Linked DNA regions of Homo sapiens. The protein of the gene in region 2 interacts with the protein of the main gene of each other region in a pairwise test. Each region holds a gene or a part of one and is shown on either strand. Other genes may lie near its edges.

Region 1 (7,910 bases), on a different chromosome or scaffold from region 2:
AAAAAAAAAAAAAAAAATTAGCTGGGCGTGGTTGTAGGCACCTATAGTCCCAGCTACTAGGGAGGCTGAGGCAGGAAAATGGTGTGAACCCGGGAGGTGGAGCTTGCAGTGAGCCGAGATCGCGACACTGCACTCCAGCCTGGGCGACAGAGCAAGACTCCATTTCAAAAAACAAAAAAAGAAAATATGATCTGTAGTCAAAAAAGGAAACCATCAGGCCGGGCACAGTGGAACACTCCTGTAATCCCAGCACTTTGGGAGGCCAAGGCGGGTGGATCACGAGGTCAGGAGATCAAGATGGTCCTGGCTAACAGGGTGAAACCCCGTCTCTACTAAAAAATATTAAAAAATTAGTTGGGCATGGTGGCAGTCCCAGCTACTCCGGAGGCTGAGGCAGGAGAATGGCGTGAACCCAGGAGGTGGAGCTTGCAGTGAGCTGAGACTGCCATTGCACTCCAGCCTGGGAGACAGAGCAAGAAAGTAAATAATGAATTACATAGGCTTAACGGTAAATTGGAAAAAATCAGAGGAAGAAAACTTAGAAAGAAATAAGTAGAAAGCGTTCAAATTGAAACAAGGCAGGTGTGGTGGCTAGCACTGTAATCTCACTTTGAAAGCTAAGACAGGAGGATTGCTTGAGAACAGGAGTTCGAGACCAGCCTGAGCTGATCTCAAAAAAAAAAAAAAGGAAATACAAGGAAATAAAACAGAGTATTTGAGATACATGGAACAATAATATATGGTCTAATACTTGTATTAAGAATAAAAAAAGGAAACAGAATGGGTGTAAAAATATTCAAACAGATAATAAATGACAATTTTCTAAAACTAATGAAAGATACCAACCCACAGATCCAATAACTGCAGCTGACATCAAGGTGAATAAATGATAAATGCAAAGAAAACCACTCCTGTGTACATCATAGTCAAAATTCTGAAAACCTAATTTAAAGAGCAGATCTTAAAAGCAGCTACAGAAAAAAGTGTACACTGTACACAGGGGCACCAAAATATGTACTACAAGTGATTTTTTAGCAAAATATGAAGTCAGAAGAGGAATGACATGTTTAAAGTGCTGAAAGAAAAGAAAATGTCAACATAAAATTTTACGTACAGTAAAAATACCCTTCAAAAGTGAACATGAACTAAAGACATTTAGAGGCAGACAAAAGCTGAGAGACTTCTCCAACAAACAGCACACAGGCTATGCTGAGTGAAGTTCTTGAGGCCAAAGGGAAGATACCAGATGGAAAACCAGATCTGCAAAAAGGAATAAAAAAGTACTAGAAAGGATAAATATCTGGGCAAATTAAAAAGAGACATACTTTAATACATTCATTATATGCATATATTTACAAATTTCTAAATACCATAAAAATACAATGTAAAATGAATTTTATAACATATAGAAGTAAAATATAACACAACAATACAGAGGATGGGAGAGGGATAAATGGAATTACATTGTAACTTTTTTACAGATTCATAAAATAGAATAATATTATTTAAAGGTAGCCTGTGATAATAACATACGCAAATTGTAATTTCTAAAGCAACCACCATATTTAACATAAAGAAGAAAATCTAAAAAGACAATCTAGTAATTTAAATGGAATATGAAAGAAAAAAATCCAATTTACCCATAAGTTCTCAGAAAACAAGGAACAGAGAAACAAGCGACAAATGGAAATGAATGAATGAGAAAAACTTCCCTCAACCACTGTTATTGAACACTGAATGGCTCTGCAAATAAGCTTTTACTACAGACTCAATAATGTTTCTTTATGAATTTAACCTAAAACTACAAGGCAAAATAGAGCTTATATGCAAAACTTAAACTGCAGTAAAATCATTTTGACACAACTAACATTGTTTGAATCACAAATAATGTCAAGCTGTTTTACACACTTCTCATGCTGTCAAAAGTTAAAACAAGAAGCAAGATCTCCATTCCAACACAAATTTGCAGCAGTTATGTTTTTCTGAACTCAAACTACAGTACCAACAGTGTTTTCTGAATTTCAATGCAAGTGCAAAGGAAATTTTCATATTTAAAATTTACTTAACTGTGCAACTGAGAAGCTTCCATTTAACCTTCAACTGGAAGTGATTAATCTGCAATGTAATGGCATGCTAAAGGGGAAATATCAAGAGAATTTATAGAATTCTAATAGAATTTTAGAAATGCCTTCTAAGCAATGAATACACTCAAGTAAAATCATGTGCTCATGGGTTGGTATCAGTATTTGGCGGTATCTGTCTGGGTAGAAAGACATTTCAAAAATGAAGTACATAAAATCTCATAAAAAATCAGCATTAATAGATGAACATCTGCAGTCAATTTTTATGAAAGAACACTTTGAACACCAAGTGAAATGTTACTTTCCCCCCAAAAGAATTCCATGCCTTTCATTATTATACCTGTATTAAAATTGCTATTATTACACTTTGAATTGACAAAATAAAAAACTGTGGACTTTTTTTTCTTCGTGTTATATAAGTATCTACCTGACATTCTCAATTTTGTCTCTTGGCCCACAAAGACTAAGGCATTTACAGCTGGGCCCTTTACAGAGATTGGCAACCCCTGGTCTAAATGTAGTTTTTGCTACAGTTGTCAACTATGTTTTTTGCTTTGGAACCACAAACATTCTACTTCAAACTACTACTTCTATGAATCACTTGTAGACGTTGAGGAGGAGTTAGGAAGAAAAGTCGAGAACTAATTTAGTCCTGGGGTTAAATAATAATTGTAGCCAACTTGAATTGAGCACATATATTGTGCAGCTCTCTGCTAAGGAGGCATTTGTATATATTTTCTTATTTAATAAGATAATCTTATGAGCTAGGTACTATTTCTCCCCATTTTACAGAAGCTTAGTGACTGTGTTGTCAGGGATCACATTGCTAAGTGATGTGGAAGACATAACCTAGCAATGGGACATCTAAACCAATGTCTGCAACATCAATTAAGAAAAGCAAAAGAGGCCGGGCGCGGTGGCTCACGCCTGTAATCCCAGCAATTTGGGAGGCCGAAGTGGGTGGATCACGAGGTCAGGAGATTGAGACCACGGTGAAACCCCGTCTCTACTAAAAATACAAAAAAGATTAGCCGGGCGCGGTGGCGGGCACCTGTAGTCCCAGCTACTCGGGAGGCTGAAGCAGGAGAATGACGTGAACCCGGGAGGCGGAGCTTCCAGTGAGCCGATATCGTACCACTGCACTCCAGCCTGGGCGACATAGCAGACTCCGTCTTAAAAAAAAAAAAAAAAAAGCAAAAGAATACAGAAAATTGTTAAAGGGGAGAAGGGGGTGGTCAAAGGCAGAGGAGTCGGTGTGGACAAGACAGAGATCTCTTGGAGAGAGGGCAGGACTACCAGTTGACAAAACCTGTTCAGGTTCCTGGAGGCTCACAACCACCAGTTCCCATCATCCCAGCAACAGCACTCTTTCCCACCCTAGCCTCGTTCGTAATGATCTGATCAATGTGTGAACAAAAATATTGTGTGTACAAGTCTCAACACATTTGATAATGTGAAGAGGTGAAGGAAAGTGGGTAGGAAAAATCTGTAGGGTGGGGAGACTCGGGGAAATGTGTCCTGGTCCAGTGCAGGTAACATATATGGGTATATATGCGTATATACATATTTATACCATATTTAATATATTACTCTATTAAGAAATTATAACAAATTTCCTTTTACATTACACATCCACATATTAAACCCCCAATATGTGCTAACAAGGTTAGAATTTAAGTATAATGATAATGTTCTCAGTTTTTTGTGGTGGACACTTTAAGAGAGTGTAAATAATAATAAAAATAATAGAGTGATCAGATCACTTGTGCTCAGGGCTAGACCCTTCAGCCCCAACGGCCTTAACCCCCCTCAACTGCTTTTCCAACCAAATATTCCTCCCCCTGCAGGATCCCAGGGCCATCCAATCAACCGGCCAATGACGGTTTCAGAGAAGCGGTCCTGGGGAGGGGTATTATCTGCAGGAACACGTCCTGCCAACTTTGTAGTCGAGTCACCTATTTCGGTTGGTAGCGGCCGCTATTTCTTTAAAAGGGCAGTGGATTTCGAAACAGGAGGGGGAGGTCAGGAAAAGGAACTCAGCTGCCTTTGATAACTGCCCTGCAGCCTTCCCTTCCCGGAGCGCGTGCTCGGCTCGGGAAGCGCCCGCGGCCGCCGCATCCCCGAGCGGGCGCGTGGCGCCACCTCTTTCCGGGGCGCCCACCTTCCCCGGGAATCCCCCCGCCCGACGGTCCCCCAGCGTCTGCGGCGCGGCCGCCCCGGCTTTGTCTCCGGCGTCGCGCTCGGGCGCCCGCTCTCCCCACATTTCCCCGTGTGCAGGCTGTAACCCGATCTCCCATTTCCTGGTGGATTCTCTTAAAGAGGCAGCGGTCGAGAAGCAGAACAAAGGCTATTGTTTTATTTCCTCCTTCGGATTCCGCGTCCTAACCGGAATGGCCCTTCATAGATAATTACTTTCGTTGCATCTGCGCTTAGTGAAACGTTTCAAAACCCTTGTGCACATCGATGTATCCAAGAGACGGAGCCAGGGGAGGTGGGAGGAGTTTAATAAAACCTGTTTTGTGGTGTCTGGGGCCACAATGTAACGTTTTTTAAAGGTGTCTTCCTTAAGCCCGGAAATTGGCTCGGCCAGCGGGAGGTCTCGCGGCGTGGAGGGCGGGCGCCCGCACCGGGGGCCGGCCTGGGGGGCTGCGCCGCTCGCCCCGCTCGCAGCCGCGGCCCCACGCGGCCCCGCTACCCGGGTTTCCTCCGCCCGCGCCCCCGCGGCCGCCCCTCCCCCGCGCAGCTTTTATTTCCCCGATGCCGGGCTGTAACCCGAGCTTTTATTTCCTGGTGGCTCCTTTAAGAGGCAGAGCTCAGTGCTGGGAATTCACGTCAGTTTCTGCACTGAAACTCTCAAGATCAATGAGCAAAGAGCTTTCTCAGTTCTGCCTTTCAGTTTCTCTCTTCCAGGAAGGAAAACATTCGAGAGAGCGAGGGAGAGCCGCGGGAGGGCGGGGGGCGGGGGCGCCGGCTGCGGGTGGGAGGAGAGACCGGGAGGCCGGCCGGGCTGCGTCCCGGGTCCCCGCGCCGCGCCGCGACCTGCAGACCCCGCCGCCGCGCTCGGGCCCGTCTCCCACGCCCCCGCCGCCCCGCGCGCCCAACTCCGCCGGCCGCCCCGCCCCGCCCCGCGCGCTCCAGACCCCCGGGGCGGCTGCCGGGAGAGATGCTGGAAGAAACTTCTTAAATGACCGCGTCTGGCTGGCCGTGGAGCCTTTCTGGGTTGGGGAGAGGAAAGGAAAGTGGAAAAAACCTGAGAACTTCCTGATCTCTCTCGCTGTGAGACATGTCTGAGACTCCTGCTCAGTGTAGCATTAAGGTAAAAATCTTCTCCCCTCCTTCTACGTGGTGGAAACCCTGAGCTGCACCGGCCAGGGCAGTCGTGCTGGGCTCCTCAGAGCAGGCTGTTGCAGTTGCTCTGTTCGCAGGAAATTATTTGGGGCGAGAGGGAAAGAGATGCAGCTCGCGGTGGCTGCTGTACCCTTTAGCGTAACCTTGCTACTCCCCCCCACCGCCGAGCCCCTGCCGGCTCCTCGGCCCCCACCCCCTTGCTTTTTGACAATGAAATGCCGGTCACAATTGGTCAGAGCAACCCGGATTGTCTCCAGAACCGTAAAACACCCCCGTAATTAGTGCGCTTAAAAAAAAAAAAAACAAAAAACAAAAAAAAAAAACCTGCTCCCTATTCCTACACCCAACATGTGACTGAAATATAACTTTTGTTCCCGAGGGGTGGTCGTCTTAGAAAAAAAGTTGTTCAGTTTCCACTGCGATAGAATCTTTTTATTTTTTTAAAGGACTCTCTGGGTCTGATCAGACAGGATTTTTTTCCCCCTCGTCTGATTGTAATTGCAAGCGCTGTCGGAGAGACAGTCCTGGTGTCAGCTTTTCCTAGGCATTGCACAATGAATTTTTTTTTAAAACCAAGGTGAATAAAGTTGCTGAATAGTTATTTTACTCCGATCCATATGAAAGTTGAGCAATCCCAAAGTAGAAAACTCCTGTGATGGAGGGAGAGGAAGAACTAAGCAACCAGGCAAAATGACCTTCTGTGTTTGACAGTGCAGAGAGGCTATCTAAGCAGCACTCTGTAAATGCAGGGCGGTAGATGTTTGTAAACACACTGCTGGGCTACCCAGTAGTTGTGTGTATGCATGTCTATATATCTGTAAAGACTGTGGTGCTGCGGTTTGTTGCTTCTAAAAAGTTGTTGTAAAGTTTGCCACCATTGGGAGGCAGGATGATTTATCCATCTACCCGTGTTATTTTTCCCATCGCTGCATTTATTGTACACTTTATTCATTTCGCTGTTCCACCAGTACCCAGGTAGAAAGCCTTCCGCTCTTGTGAGAGGCTGAAGCTGCTGAAGTTTGTTTTTGGTTTGGCCTATTTAATGTGTGTTCACTGAATGGACACTACAGCAACAATGAACAAATAACCTGTTTTCTTCGTCTGTGGGGAGTTAGAAAAACCCTTCCTGGTTTAACACTGCCTTTCAATTAGAGTCTGTGTAGGGGAAACGCAGTAGTTCATCATACGTGCTTACTAGGTTTTTTATAATTAGAATCACATTTTGGTGTTTCTTATCAGAAAAGATATTCATGGGTTTGAGGATAGGCTAATGTGAAATCAAAAGGTGGTTTGGGCTTCTTTGTTTTTGCCTCACAAAAATGCCTAATGGAACTTTTAGGCTTTTGTGTTTGTACATAACTGGAGGTAGCAGTATGTATGTCTGTGGGCATGGGGCGTGCCACACTAAAGAACTTAGGGTACTTTGATATTAATACTTCAAAACCAGTTTCTTTTGCGGTATAAATTAGATTCTACACAGAGTTCAGGAAAATCCTGCGGTATAGATAATCTAATTTATTTGACGCTTCATAACATAGAGGTAACTAAATAGTAGGATATTCAATAAATAAATTGTATTTGGCTCAGTGGCAATAAACCCGACATCAGGAAAATCTGCCAACTACAGATCAGTAACTTTAGGGCAAAAACAACAAAAAACAATGCTTTCTGTGACGTTTCTTGATCCTCTTCTATACTGCATCCCCACCGTTTTGATGGGCTTATGGTGGTGTGCTGGCTGCAGACTGCTACTGAGTGGTTTGTTTCATTGTGCTCCAGTCGGAAAAAGAGTACAACAGTCCCTTGCCTTACTCACATACAGAACCAATCCCAAGCAAAACGCGTTCTTAAATGCAACATGAAAATTGTCTGTAATTTGCATATCATTTTTTTCCTTATTGCTTACAACTCAGTTCTTTCAGGGTGCCTCTTTTCATTACTGTGTACTTCTATGTAATTAAAATAGATTTAATGTTCTTTACCAGAAAGGAAAGAATCACTTTTATTTTGGATCGTTCTTTATGGAACGAGTATGTATTTGCTTAGACTGCATGTGTCTAGGTGAACGTATGTGAAGAGTATCTTTCCATGGAGTTTGTTTAATTCAGTGTTCCAATAATAAGCACTAGAGATCAAGGACTGGGATTATTCCAGGTCATCTGAAATGTTCTGGTGATGTGTGCTGCGTTTCATTTAGTCCTTGGGATGTGGTACGGTGACTGCATAATAAAAAATGTTTGCTGGTAACCCACAAGCAAGTTGCTTGCTTCTAGAGTCCAGTAAACAATATGCTTTTCTGTGTAGTGAAGAACGAATGTCAGAGGTTTTCAAGGATGAGCTGATGAACCTGATATACCGAACTCCTGTGACACAAAAGGCTCTCACTGTGGAGAGGTTTTTCCCAGTCCTCCTCTCCACTCCTGAAACCGTCCTCACTTGCTTTCATTCCTTACAAGTAGCGGGTCAGCAGGCAGACAGTTC
Region 2 (7,079 bases):
TCTGCCCTCCCCAGGGCTGTGGAGCGGCTCAGGCCTACGCGTGCCTCCCCATGCTGTCACTCTTCCCAGGTGGGCTTTGACTCATGTCCATGGGCCAGTGACTCTCAATTTTGTTCACAGCATTTCTCTGGAGATCTAGTGGCCTCTGAGACACCAGAGAGGTCCCGCCGCCACCATAAATTCAGCATTCTTCTAAATGCACTCCCTGTACCTGCTCTCTTTCCATTTCAGTGATGCCATCACCCATTCAGCCATCTGCACAAGAGACCTGGACGTTATCCTCGCCTCCTTTGTCTCCTCACCCCTGTTTTCACTCCACAAATGTTTACTGAGCACCTACTATGGTCCAGGCCCCTTTCTGGGTGCTGGAAAACAGCTGTGAATGAGACAGGAGTAGTTGCTGTTCTCAGGGGATGTCAGACAGTAAAGGAGGATAGAAATAAATGTTTAATGCACCAGGTGATAGGGATAAAGCAGGGGTCAGGGTTCAGAGGGATGGGACATGATCTCAGCCAGAGCAAGCAGGGAGGATTTCTTTTTTTTTTTTTTTTTTTTTTTTTTTTGAGATGGAGTTACGTTCTGTCAGCCAAGCTGGAGTGCAATGGCACAATCTCGGCTCACTGCAACCTCTGCCTCCCAGGTTCAAGTGATTCTCCTGCCTCAGCCTCCCAAGTAGCTGGGACTACAGGCATGCACCACCACGCCTGGCTAATTTTGTATTTTTAGTAGAGACAGGGTTTCACCATATTGGTCAGGCTGGTCTCAAACTCCTGACTTCAGATGATCCGCCTGCCTCAGCCTCCCAAAGTGCTGGGATTACAGGCGTGAGCCACCGCGCCCAGCTGGGAGGACTTCCTAGAGGAGGTGTTATTTGAGCTGAGGCTTGAGAAATGAGAAGAGCCAGGTCAGGGCAAAGGCCCGAGGTGGGAACAGATGTGGATCACTCAGAGACCAGCTAAGGGGCCAGGCTGGAGCAGAGTGAACCAGGGCAGCGCAGGCAGAGAGGCGTCAGAGGGGCTGTGAGGAGCCAGACCACGCTGGTCCTTGGGAGCCATGGGGACGGGCTTGGGCTTTGTTCTCAGTGCCGGGGAGGCTGGGGTAAGTGGCAGTTCAGCAGTGGGGGAGAGACCCCGTCTGGCTTCTGTGTAGGAAGAGCCCTGTCACCCTTTGTGAGGAAGGACCTGGGGGGTCAAGAGTGACAGCAGGGGGAGGGGCTGTTCCCTCAACACGTCATCACCTGCCTCCCTCCAATCAGTTCCACAGGCCACGAAGCAGACACTAGGAAAGGAAGGTGCCACCCCGCACCACCCCCAGTCTCGCCTTGAGAGAATAAAGGCAGCGTGTGATGAAATGCCAAGTTCTGAGGCAGGTGGTTCCCAGGATGGTCAGCGCCGCAATGGCCTTCTCAGCATGTTGCTGAGTCCTGCAGCTGGCTGTCCTGCAGGCCCCAAGAGCTGCAGCTGCTCCAGGCAGCATCTCCAACCGCAGCCATGCCCAGGCTAGCAAAACTTCCGACCTCCTTTTTATTCTTTAATGAGGTATAATTTACATTAATAACCTGCACTTATCTAAAGTGTACAATTTGATGAGCTCAGTCATGTGGGAAGCCATAACCACACATTCCATCGCCCCCGAAAGCTTCTTCACACCCCTTTGCTGTCTAGCCCCATCCCTAGGCACCCACCGATGTGTTTTTCATCACCATTTTCTAGGATTTTATACACGTGCAGTCATGCAGGATGAGCTCTCGTTTGTCTGGTTTCTCTCAGCCAGCACAGTGATTCTGATGCGCCTGTGTATCGGGAGTCCGATCCCTTCCGTTGCTGAGGCATGCTTCTCATGGTGTGCACGGATACAGTTTGTTTCTAGTTCACCTGCTGAAGGACATTGGCATTGTTTCTAGTCTGGGTCTGTTTCAATTAAAGCTGCTGTTAAGATTCTCGTGCTAGTGTTTGTGCAGACATGTGGTTTCATTTCTCTTGGGTAAATACCAGAGAGAGGAATGACTGGATCGTATGGTAACTCTGGGTTTCACTTTTTGAGAAACTGCCAGACTACACCAAAGTAGTTGTCCCATTTTCCATTCCTATCAGCAGTGGACAGGGGTTCTGGATGCTGTATATCCTGACCCACAGGCTATGAAAGAGAGAGACCAGGAAGAGGGCTTCTCCCTTCAGGCCACCTGTGGACTTCAGTAAATACGAACCTTCAGCGGGAGTGGGCGCCCTGACACAGGCGGGAGAGCAAGGTGCGTTGGCCCGGCAAAGGCTCTGAGAAGGTCTGCATTGAGAGCTTGTGAGGCATTGCTTAACCTGATGTCTCTGGGTGATTCAGTCCTGGACCTTTGCTGCAGAGTTCGCCTCTACCCTCACCCTGCGAAGAACTGCAGTGGCCCCTGTGGGCATTCACACTGGGAGATGCTCTTCTCCAGGAATTCCCTGGGGGATGGAGATCAGAACGGCCTCAAGTCCTGCTCTTTTGCGGATAGTGGCCATGACCGGAGTCCCCAGAGCGAAGCAGGGTGGTGCATCTCACCCCCTGCCCCAAGCCCCCAGATTGTAGAACTGAAAATGCAAGCATCTTTTCTCTTCCTTCCCCACCCCAGGTGCTCATCTGCCGGAACTACCGTGGCGACGTGGACATGTCAGAGGTGGAGCACTTCATGCCCATCCTGATGGAGAAGGAGGAGGAGGGGATGCTGTCGCCCATCCTGGCCCACGGGGGGGTCCGTTTCATGTGGATCAAACACAACAACCTGTATCGTATCCCTTTGCTGGGGGTGCTCCCAGGGGACTCCTGTGTGGGTGTTGGTGTGTGTGCATATCCACACGCCTGCAAGCAGGGCTGGTTTGTGCACAGCGCAAGCATTGGACACAGCCATGCCCTCCTGGAGCTCCCTGCTGCCTGCGGAGACAGGCAGACAATGCACGATGACATGTGTGATGGGTGTGGGGAGAGGAGCAGGTGTGACTTGAACCTCTTCAGCCCAGGGGCCCAGGAAGGGAAATGACACCCTGGAGGAAGCCTGCAGGGAGGCCTGGCTTCTGCCAGCTGGAGGGGTGGGCAGGCACTAGGCGTGGGTGAAGGCTCTGCAGGGAAGAGCCTCATTCCAACAGCTGCACTCGGGGTGGCTGGAGAGGGGGCGTGTAGGGCAGCGAGGCTGGAGTGGTCAGCGGGGTCTGGGGTCTCAAAGAACATCATCTGAAATGTGACAGGAAGTCTCTGGAGGCTTTTAGATGTGTGTCTTCTGGAGGTTTCTGGCTGCTGAGTGGGGCAAGACTGTGGGGACAGGAGAGGACATGGGTAGGTGGGGAGTAGGCTGGGGCCATCGTGCAGGTGGGAGGGGAAGTGGCCTGGACCACGGAGGGGTGGTGGGGTACAGCCCCGCCCAGATCTCAGAGCCCCCCACCCTTCCTGTCCTTGGGCCCATGGGGAGACTTGGCCAAGCCAGTTTCTATCCAGGAGGTCTAACTGGCCACCCCACAGCTTTGGGCAGACCCGCAAGCCCATCTCAGTACCCACACTACTGCGGAAGGGCCTGCTTTGCCACTCACAGCCCGTTTGAGCCCCAGCTCCAGCAGCCATGGGGGATCCCTCACCTTCCCACAGTTCAGTGGGAACAACGACCCCTCACTGCAGGACCATTCGGGTCAGTTGAACTGACTTGTGCATATTGCTCCCAGCAGGCATGGGCTCTGTGCCCTTTCCTGTGTTCTTGGAGACACTTGGGGCCTTGCCAGTACAGTGTGGCCAACGGGCCAGAATATCCGCTGGGAGCCCTTTGGAAATGCAGAATCCCAGGCTCCACCCAGCCCTGCCCCGTCAGAATCTGCATTGTAGGAAGATTTGTTCCTGGTGGCCGGTGTGCACATTCCCATGTGGGCCGTGCTGGCCCAGGGCTCCCTGTGGTGTGCCTCTGTGTAGATTTCACCTGGCTCTGGAAGGCCCTGAGAATAGCTCTGAAGATGATCTTAGGTGGCTTTTTTTTTTTTTTTGAGACAGAGTCTCGCTCTGTCGCCCAGGCTGGAGTGCAGTGGCGCCATCTGGGCTCACTGCAAGCTCCGCCTCCCGGGTTCGCGCTATTCTCCTGCCTCAGCCTCCCGAGTAGCTGGGACTACAGGCGCCCGCCACCACGCCCAGCTAATTTTTTTGTATTTTTTTAGTAGAGACAGGGTTTCACCATGTTAGCCAGGATGGTCTCGATCTCCTGACCTCGTGATCCGCCCGCCTCAGCCTCCCAAAATGCTGGGATTACAGTCGTGAGCCACCGTGCCCGGCCTAGGTGGCTTTTAACCCAGGGAACTGACAGTCCTCTGAAGCCGCCCAGGTATTGGGAGAGGGAGAGGTGGCTGTGGTCTGAGCTCAGCAGGAGCCATCAGATCAGTTTCTGGTTGGGCCCCCACATTTCACACCTGGGCATCTAGGGAAGAGACAGGGAGGGCTCACCCCTCTGGCTTAGTGGACATCGTTTCACCCCCAGCCGGGACAGTGCTCAGCAAGGCCGTGGCTGAGAGGCACCCATGAGAAGGTGAGAGGCCCCCACTGCCCCTGCTTATAAAGCATCTGGGGAGGGCACATTGCCAGGCAGCAGGAGGGAGGCCAGCACTCGTTTGACTGGGCCAGCGTCCCTTTCCTGGGCCCCTGTGCTGTGCTGGGGTGAGGCGGGAAGGGAGAGGATACAGCCCCCACCCTCCCTCCTAGAGCTCACTCCTGGGCAGACGAGCCAGGCAGCACAGATGTGCCATGAACAGGGATGTCCAGGGTGCAGTGCATGGGCCTACAGAGGAAGAACCAGCCTTCTCTGGCGGCCCGGGGACCCATTAGGGAAAAAGGAATAGGAAGCGCCCAGCACACACTGACCCTGGGAGGCAGGGGCTGGCTCCTGTGGCAGAAGGGAACATCTGTGCCAGACATCTCACCTACATTGCCTTGGTGAGTTCATTCACAGGCCTCCATTACACAGGAGAGAAATATCAAGGTTTCTCTAGAAAGGTTTATTTCATGGGCCAAGGCTTGTGTTTCCAAAGCCAGGAAGGGCTGAAGCCAGAATTGGCCCTGGCTGCTTGCCACAGAGTCTGGCCGGGGGACCCTGGACCTCAGCAGGGTCATGATGAGGTCAGCTTTGGAGGAGCAGGGCCAGTGTGTCCTGCTTTCTGCTCCTGGAATGAGCCTCACTCCCTCCCTGCTCAAGGCAGCCCTTCACCCAGCCGCCGGGACAGGTGCCCTGTGCCACCTGCCATCCCTGTGATTCTCCATCTCAGTGAGTGCTCCCTGGGGCCTGGGAGCGCATCTGGCTGGTGACTCCTGTGTCCCAGGTCTAGCTTGGACCAGGAGCTTTGTAGCCCACCATGGGCCAAGTAAACGGCTGGGAGTGGGGATAGGGAAGGCTCTGAGGGTTGTGAGGGTTAGGGGGTCCCTCCATGAACCAGGATCTTCCAGGCAGCAGCCCCAGCCTCTGAATGCTCCTTAACTGTGGCCGCCATGCAGTGGTTGCCACATCCAAGAAGAACGCGTGCGTGTCGCTGGTCTTTTCTTTCCTCTATAAGGTGGTGCAGGTGAGTCTCGCTCGGAGGGGCCGTGGGCTTGGGTGGAGGTTGTCTTGGCTCTGCTTGTGGACCTCCCCATACCTGGCCACCCTACAGAGAGCTGTGGCATCCCCAGGGAGCACTGGGGCTGGAAGCCCAGGAAGTGGGAAAGGGGAGTCCCAACTCCCCACGCCTGTGGAATTCTATAGCTCACGTTGCTCCCCTACCGTGGGGAAGAAAGGAAAGTGAACAGGAAAAGGTAGGGCTCAGAGCAGGGGTGCCCTGACCCTGGAAGGGACAAGCAGGGGTCAGCGAGCTTTGGAAGGATGTGGGGTGACCAGCTGGATGGGGCTGGAATAACCAGCAGAGCTGCAGAGCTGAGCCCACCTCAGAATCTCCCAGGGGGCTCTCAAGGCACAGATGCCTGACGCCCACCTTGGAGAGAGCTGACACGCCAGGCCCAGGCTGCCAGTGAGACACAGATAGCAGCCAGGGTGAAGGCGCCAGGACAGGTGTATGTGTGGTGCAGCTAGGGAGGCCAGCGTGCGTGTGGCAGAGTATGAGGCTGAGGTCAGCTGGGAAGAGGGCGGATTATACAGGAGTGTGGATTTCATTCCACTTCTGATGAAAGGTAGTGGAGGGCTTTAAGCAGGAGACTGACAAGACGTGGTTTGATCTAAAGCAGCCTCTCTGGCTGCTGAGCAGAAGGAGGACTTGAGGCCAGTGAGGAGGCTGCTGCTGGCTTCCCGGAGAGGATGGGCCTGGCCGAGGTGGGCTGTGGGGCTCACGAAAGTGGGGAACAGGACCCAGGAGGCCTGTGCTGGGCCTGGGAAAGCTTTCATCCCTCACTGATGCTGCCTGTGCAGAATGTTGGGGAACAGGGGCAAGCCTGGGCGGTGAGGGCTTGGGGAAGGAGCCGAGGGTCACCTGGGAAGGCCCCACGTGCAGGCCAAGGGCTGCCTTCACTGGACCGGTGATGCTGTCACAGGCAGGGCTGGGCCTGGCTGTGCTGCCTGTGGTTTCCAAGCAGAGGCCGGGTGATCACAGTCCTGAAGCGCGCAGGGGTCAGCAGATCAGAGAATGGGGGATGCGGGAAGGGGAAGGTCCTCACCCAAGGGTTGGGCTGTGCCTTTCTGTTTTAGTGACGCTCCTTCCTTCAGCATTTGTGCCTGCAAAAGTGCTTCTAACAGCCCCTCTTCTTTGGCGTCCCTTCCTTAACCTTCTGAGCTTTCCATTGAAATGGGGAAGATGCATCAAGCTTTCCACTGAAATGGGGAAGATGGCAGCTCATCAGGTCCTTGCCTGAGTCACTCCAGACTCAGAAAGGGATGACAGTTACAGTCGCTCAGGAGGGGCTGCCTGTCTGCGGGTGTCTGGGCAGGGAAGAGAATGGGAACGCAGAGCTTCTGAAGGCCTCGGGACATCTGCAGTGGCTCCAGCCTGGCCCCACCCCACAGCCAGCCACTGCTGTCCTGCCCCATAACCTGGGTCCAGGGCCCTGTAGCACACCACCGAGCCTGGGAAGTAGGCTGTTGGTAGGACTTAGCGGGCAAA
Region 3 (7,000 bases), on a different chromosome or scaffold from region 2:
CAGACAGATGGAGAGGCTAGAGACTGGGAGGTGGGGGTGTGGAAGCTGGGCCACCAGTTCCTGAGGGGGCAGGGGAGATGAGTGAAGGAGCGCCAAGGTCACCAGAAGAATGGAGCAGGCTTCCCCAGGGGCTCCCTGTGGCTTGGGCACCCCTGCCTCCTGGCCCAGCGTGCTTTCTTCCGCAGCCCGTGCTGCCAAGGCAGAAAGCTAAGGTGAGCAGACGAGATCTTCCCCGAGAGAACCCTGGCTGGGTGGGTAGCGTTCTCTGGAAGGGTAGCCTGGATTGGGGGACTCTTGTTGAAGAAAGGTGGCAGGTGTCCATGGCCCCTGGCAGGTGGGGCTGGCACTGCCCATGCTGTTCCTCAGCTGGGGCTCAGTGCTGGGCTGCCCTCGGGACTGTCGCTCACCAGGCACTCGTTGGATTTGAAGCTCGCCAGGGACTTGCAGCTGGGAATGGAGGCCAGGGAGCCGCAGAGGCCCAGCATGGAGGGCGTGGGGTCCTTCCCTGGGGAGAGAGGGCAGGTGAGGCCAAGCGACCAGTCTACATGTGTGGGAGTTGGTAGAGGGGTGGGCAGTGAAGGGGCAGCCCTCAAGTCACCCCCCAGGAGACCTTGGCATATTCCACAGCATTTGCCATTTTCAGTTAAACTTTGGTTAAGCACCTGCCTGTGCCAGGCACCGTGCTGGGGACACTGTATTGTAATCGTCAGTTGATGTCTCTGTCTCCCCGTGAGGGTCATCCTCTCTCTTTGTCCATTTATTAAATACACAGTGAGCACTCGCTCTGTTCCAAGCACTGGGGATACAGAGAACGGACAAGACACGGTCCCTGCCCTCATGGAGCTCACAGTCTGGTGGGGGAGACAGACACACAGACAATCACAAACACAGTGTGATGGGGCTACATGGCCACAGCCTGCCTTGTCTCAAAGAAGATCTAGGGTCATCCAATACAGTGTGGTTGCTTATAAAAAAGAAAAGACAGGATATTCAGGCATAGGGAGAACTAGGATGGGAAAAACCAAGGTGAAGCCAGGGATGAGGTCAACACAAAGTGCATGCGTTGAAGTCCTGGGCATTCGCTCGAAGGGAGCCACTAATTTGGCTCTGAGCTTCCTGGCAGCCAAAGAGAAGGGGGAAACAATGGTCAGGCAAGTAGTTCACAGTGTGCATGAGATAAGAGCAAATTAGTCTAAGGAGTTCCCCGAGAGTTTGTGAGCCCCCGAGGATGTCATGACACTAAAAAACCACTGAGCCCTCACCATGTGACAACATTGGTGATTATCAACATCCCCATTTACAAAGAATAGACTCATGGAGGTAAAGTGATTGACCAAGCTCACATGGTCAGAGGAGGCACAGCCAGATTTATGCTGGGTTCTGCATATGCTGTGTTCTGCCACCTCAAAGTAAGCTCTCGATTGCTGTGCTAAACCCTCAAGAAAGGCTGAGAGAGGCCGGGCACAGTGGCTCACACCTGTAATCCCAGCACTTTGGGAGGCCAAGGTGGGTGAATCACTTGAGGTCAGGAGTTCGAGACCAGCCTGGCGAAACTCCGTCTCTACTAAAAATACACAAATTAGCCGCGCGTCTCTACTAAAAATACACAAATTAGCTGCGCGTGGTGGCAGGCGCTTTTAATCCCAGCTACTCGGGAGGCTGAGGCAAGGGAATCCCTTGAACCCGGGAGGCAGAGGTTGCAATGAGCTGAGATTGCGCCACTGCACTCCAACTTGGATGACAGAGTGAGACTCCGTCTCAAAAAAAAAAAAAAAAAAAAGACTAAGAGAATGAATGAGGACATGCCTTGAGGCCTCAGGGCCTTGCCTCAGCCCTTTCTGGAGGGGTACTGGGTGTTGGGTTGGGGGAGCTCACCGATGGGACCCCAGGGCTCCTCGTCCCGCGTGCCCTCTCCCAGGCGCTGGGAGTCCGAGCTCAGACTGGCTTCAGCTGACAGCGGCTCCGTGCTCATGAAGCTGTGTCTGCGGCAGAGCGAGAGCTGGTGCGCCGGTAGAGGAAGCCCTTCTTCCCCAGGACGACCCGCTCTCAGGCCCAAGCCCCACCTGGCTGGGGCTTACCTCCGGTAGAGCTTGGAGTTGCTGGCGCCCTCGGCCCCATTAAGCGTTCCCAGTGAGGGCCATTGATTGACCAGGGGTGTAGTGAGCTCCTTGGAACCCTGGGCCAGAGGGGCGTGGTCACTGGGGATCAGACCTGTCCTGGGAGGGGGAGGAGGAGTCAGGCCTGGCTGGAAGTAGGAGAAGTGAGGAAGGGAGATTCAGCAAGGGGATGAGGGAGGGGTCAGGAATGAAATCTGAGCGGCAAAAATGGGGATACGGTGTTGGGGTCAGTGGGCCAGATCCCGGGAGGAAGTGGAGGTGGTACTGGGGTGGAGGGGTGACAGGGATTCGTGCACAAATATTGGGAGTTGGAGGGAATGGTGCAGTGTTGTTGGGGTCAGCTGGGGTGATGGGGACGTCAGTGGAGGATAGTGTGGGAATCCCTGAAGTGTAAGATCGTCTTGGGGATCTTGCCGCAAGATCAGGGTGGTGGAAAGGCGTAGAGAAGAAGTGTTACAGGGATCGGCAGGGGTGAGGTCGGGGGTCACGGCGGATGATGACGGTCAGTGAGCCTGTGGTGCAGGTGAGTGAGGCGATGAATGCAATCGTGTTGAAGGTTGCAGAGCAACACCGCAGGTCCTTGTGAGTGACGTGGGGTCCCTGCAGTAAGGTTGGATGGCCACTCTAGCGGAAGATAACTGAAGGTGAAGGGTGGGCTCTGGCTGTTGGAAGTCACTGGATCTTATGCTGGGGGCAATGTTAGAAGATCATTGTGGGCATCTCGGGGTGGGGCTGGCTGGATCAGAGGGTTGATGCTGGAGAGGTGGGTGCTCGTGTCGGGTGATGTTAGAGTCGATGGAAGTGAAGATGGGGTTCACCCGGTGATGTGGTCGGGGCGGCGGGGGTCAGGGGTTAGGGCAGGCCGTGCGCTCACAGCTGCTCCTGCAGCTCCAGGATCACGCCTTCCAGCTCCCGTTTCTCGCGCTGGTTCTGCGCCGCCGCCTCCTCCAGCTGCAGCTGAAGCCGCCGGTTCTCCGCCTCCAGGTCCTTCAGCTGCGACTCGCGCAGACGCACCAGCTCCTCCAGGTAGCCCTGCGGGGCGCCGGCTCAGCCCGGGCGGCTGGGAGGACGTCCCGGCCGCGGCCCCCATCCCCGCCCCGCCCCGGGATGCCCGGATCCCCCGCCCGGCCCGCCCGCCCCCCGGGCCCGCCGGCGTCGCGCACCTTCTGCGCGTAGACGATGCGGAACTTCTGCTCCATCTTGTGCCACTTGCTGTACCAGCTGTCCTCATCGGTGACGAGCGGGAGGTACGGGTGCTCGGGCGAGTTGTCCTCGCTCGTGCTGCTCTCGGCGCTGTGCCGCTCCTCCTCGTCCGTCAGGTAGTCGTAGCTTGGGAGAGGGAGCAGTGGGCACGGCCGGTCCCGCCCCTCCCCCCGCGCGTCTGCGCTGGCCGCTGAGGGCGGTGGGACCAGGACGTCCCCAGGATGTCCCGAGGCCCCGTCCCCCGCCCCGCCGCAGTCATGGAGCCGCTCACCTCTGCGTGAACTTTAGGTAGGGCGTGTAATCGATGACCACGGGGGTCTTCCCGTCCAGGACTTCCCCCTTTAGACAGAAGCTGAGGCAGAGGAGCCACAGGGTTGGAGGTGGGTGTGAGGGGTTGGGGTAGGACATTTATGGGGGAAACAGCCCCCTCCACCACTGCCGTCAGGCAGACCCCACCTGAAGTCGATGGCGCTCAGTCCGATCAGCATTCCGGTGAGGATGGTGGCTTCATCCCGCAGCATGATGGCTCCAGAGTCATAGAACCGTCTGTGGGGAGGCAGAGGGCCAGAGGATGCAGCAGGCCCCTGGAGCGCCCCCCCCCCCCCCAGAGCTGCTATTGTTGGCTTACTGCCACCCCATCCTGAAGGAAGGCCAATTCTCCTTCCTGATCTGCACGCAGGCCTGGAGCCTCTCTCCCCCTTCAGCCTGGGGCTCGCACCTGTGGCCCCATCACCTAGAATGGGTGTTCCCTGAGCCGACTCCTCCCTCTGAGCTACCCCTTCCTCATCAAGTACTGGGTTACCCAGATCCTTCATATCAGGAAGCAAGTCTTAATCATTAGTGCTTGGTATACAGTAGGTGCGCAAAAAACGTGTTAACTTGAAACGTGTAGACTGAGGAATGGAATTCAGTAAAAACATCAGGCTGGGTATGGCCAATTGGGATGGGGAGGTATATGCCCCCCGCCACACCCAGACAGCTTCAGATGCACCTGCCCACACAGGCACACTCCTCCTTGTAACCCCTTGCCTCAGGCACCCAACCTCCCTGTGAACCCACAGTGCAGGGATTGAACTCCCCATATAAGGACTCTGTGTCCGTGAATAGCAAGTACAGAACTGCTTTCGTTGTTTGGAGAGACAGAAGGGCTGTGTTGTAGATCATGGAGCAAGCCAACACTTGAGATGGTGCATGGCTGAGGCTCATCCAGAGGTGTGCAAGGGTGGAGCGTGCTGGGCATTGATGGCAAATAATGGGCATTAGATTTGACTTGCAAGTGGTGGTGGTGGTGGTGGTAAAAGTTTGTCCTGGGGCCAGGAGCGGTGGCTCATGCCTGTAATCCCAGCACTTTGGGAGGCCAAGGCGGGAGGATCACCTGAGGTTGGGAGTTTGAGACCAGCCTGACCAACATGGAGAAACTAAAAATACAAAATTAGCTGGGCATGGTGGCGTATGCCTGTAATCCCAGCTACTCAGGAGGCTGAGGCAGGAGAATCGCTTGAACCCAGGAGGCGGAGGTTGCAGTGAGCCGAGATCGCGCCATCGCACTCCAGCCTGGGCAACAAGAGCGAAACTCCTTCTCAAAAAAAAAAAAAAAAAAAAGAGTTCGTCCTGGGACTGCAGGCCAGGCTGGAAGAGGGAAATCAGCCATGTGTGCTGGTGCTGGGACTTGTAGTCCAGGAACTGAAGGATGCTGCAGGAACTTAAGGATCAGCTGTGTTTGGGCAATGCAGGTGCACTCTGAGACCTGTGGTCTGAGTTGCCTGGGAAGTCTGACCTGGTGGTCCGGGTGTCACGCAGAGCCGTGGTGATGTATTCTGACATGCGCTTCTCCATCAGTGCCACCCGGATCCATGCCCGGCCCTGGAAATCATGTTCACCTTTACTTGCTGCCCCAGAGGGACTCATGTGTCCAGCATCAGGTGTGGGCCCTTCTCCCCTGGGCTGTGCACAGGGGGCAAAAACCAAGAAACAGGCAGGCCCCCTGTGTCCAGAGCAGAGAGCAGTTGCTTGCTTCAGGCCCCTCACCTTGGCCCGGGCTGTGCTGATGTTCTCCATGTTCTCGATGCTGCTCACACAGTTGTTGGGCACTTTGCTGCAGGCCAGCCGGATATAGTCCCAAAAGCCCCGCTGCCCGTCTGAGCTGAACCAGCTCACTGGACCTGCTGGGGCACAGGCTGAGCCAGGGCAGGGAGGGGGCTCAGCAAGACCAGGGAGTTTGGAGAGGGTCCATGTAGTGAGGCACTCACATGCATAAGCATAAGCAGCCTCCTCCCACAAAGATCTGTGCACACACATGCACGTGTGCAGTGGGCACCCCAGCATATCGCTTGCCCATGATGGGGATTGTAGGCCAAAGGCCTCTCCCTCTTCCCAGATCTGTACACAAGCTTCTGTGCATGGCCCAGAATGGGGGCCAGGGTCAATGAGGGGGTTCAGAGTCCATGGAGTATATCAGAAAGAGGTGGCTGGGAGCTAAAGGTTGGGAGTTGGGGAGGGACCGCTGGGGGAGGGGCGCTGGGGGAGGGACCACTGGGGGAGGGGCGCTGGGGGAGGGACCGCTGGGGGAGGGGCGCTGGGCCCACCTTTGAAGCGGTGGCTGAGGATCTGCTCTAAAATGGCTGCAAAATTGACAAACTCCTCCGATGAGTCATCGATGGGCTCCGCTGTGTACTTCTCCAGCAGCGTTTTCACAGAGAACCTGGGCGGCGAGGTGGGGAGATGGGGCAGTGGGGTGTCAGGTGAGGAAACAGGTGATGGAGGGAGAGACAGGGAGCAACCGGCAGAGAAGAAAGGTCAGGAAGGGCATGGATGTGGTGGGGGGCAGAGCGAGTGGGGAGACAGGCAAGACTACAGTGACCATAGAGGTACCGTGTCATGTGGAGTGAGAGGGTGGCAGATGGGGAGGAAGGGTGACAGGTGGGAGACTGATTGACAAAGTGGGTGACAGGAGAGGTGACAGCCAGAGAAAGGAAGCTTCGGGAGCAAGGGGTGAGAGGGACTGAAAAAATAGGAAGATGAGGCACAAGCCGGGGGCGGTCCAGGAGCCCCTTCCCCATAGACCACCCTTCAGGGTCTGTGTGTGCGAGGCCTGGGTCAACTAGGTGTTAGAAGCCAGTGTGTGCCCCACCTGAGCTGTCTTCTGTGATTGCTGGAGCAACCTTCAGTCCCTTTTGGGGATGGGGGTCACCTGTACCAGGGCATGTGAGTTGGCACTGTGCACATGGAGTGTGGGCATGCGCAGGTGGCCAGGTGGGCTCCCAGTACACAGATACCCCCTTCCCCCCTTTCCTTCCCGGCTTGGCCTCCCACACACCAGCTGCCCAGAACCAGGCAGTGCAGAGCTGGGCGGGGGTGGGGTGGGGAGGTGCGGGGTATGGGCCTGACACAGACACTGGGCAGGAGGGGGCATTGGCAGCAGATCCCTGGAAGGGGCTTGGGGGCCTGGCTTCTTTGGGAGGAAGGGACTAAGGGAAGCCTGTGGGGCTGAAGGACTGAAGCCATGCAGTGCCCCCTCTCCAGTCCTGTCTAAGCCTCAGGCTCCCTCTGCAGTCACTACCCCTGCAATCTCCCCCTGCCATCCCTGCAATGGAGTAGGGCAGGGATGAGGACACAGTTCCTAACATCCCATGATTTCCCTGCTGTGGGTGGCAGAGCAGGGGCGGGGTGTCCAGGGAAAT

What was found. The genes of interacting proteins can lie anywhere in the genome.
Region 1: the proteins of AP1M1 (region 2) and ETV6 interact in binary tests that used the Homo sapiens proteins (3 or more experiments, as listed by UniProt).
Region 3: the proteins of AP1M1 (region 2) and RUNDC3A interact in binary tests that used the Homo sapiens proteins (3 or more experiments, as listed by UniProt).

Annotation. Positions count from the first base shown.
Region 1 is NC_000012.12:11,644,764-11,652,673, forward strand, and holds the start of ETV6 (transcription factor ETV6), read left to right. Parts: upstream 1-4,910; 5' UTR 4,911-5,364; coding exon 5,365-5,397; intron 5,398-7,910. UniProt on the Homo sapiens protein: Transcriptional repressor; binds to the DNA sequence 5'-CCGGAAGT-3'. Plays a role in hematopoiesis and malignant transformation.
Region 2 is NC_000019.10:16,200,854-16,207,932, forward strand, and holds part of AP1M1 (AP-1 complex subunit mu-1), read left to right. Parts: intron 1-2,605; coding exon 2,606-2,762; intron 2,763-5,487; coding exon 5,488-5,555; intron 5,556-7,079. UniProt on the Homo sapiens protein: Subunit of clathrin-associated adaptor protein complex 1 that plays a role in protein sorting in the trans-Golgi network (TGN) and endosomes.
Region 3 is NC_000017.11:44,311,601-44,318,600, reverse strand, and holds part of RUNDC3A (RUN domain-containing protein 3A), read right to left. Parts: intron 6,022-7,000; coding exon 5,906-6,021; intron 5,498-5,905; coding exon 5,349-5,497; intron 5,184-5,348; coding exon 5,098-5,183; intron 3,867-5,097; coding exon 3,777-3,866; intron 3,673-3,776; coding exon 3,592-3,672; intron 3,447-3,591; coding exon 3,281-3,446; intron 3,150-3,280; coding exon 2,992-3,149; intron 2,217-2,991; coding exon 2,079-2,216; intron 1,983-2,078; coding exon 1,876-1,982; intron 1,565-1,875; coding exon of another isoform or gene 1,478-1,564; intron 1,117-1,477; coding exon of another isoform or gene 1,097-1,116; exon of another isoform or gene 740-1,096; intron 506-739; coding exon 363-505; 3' UTR 1-362. UniProt on the Homo sapiens protein: May act as an effector of RAP2A in neuronal cells.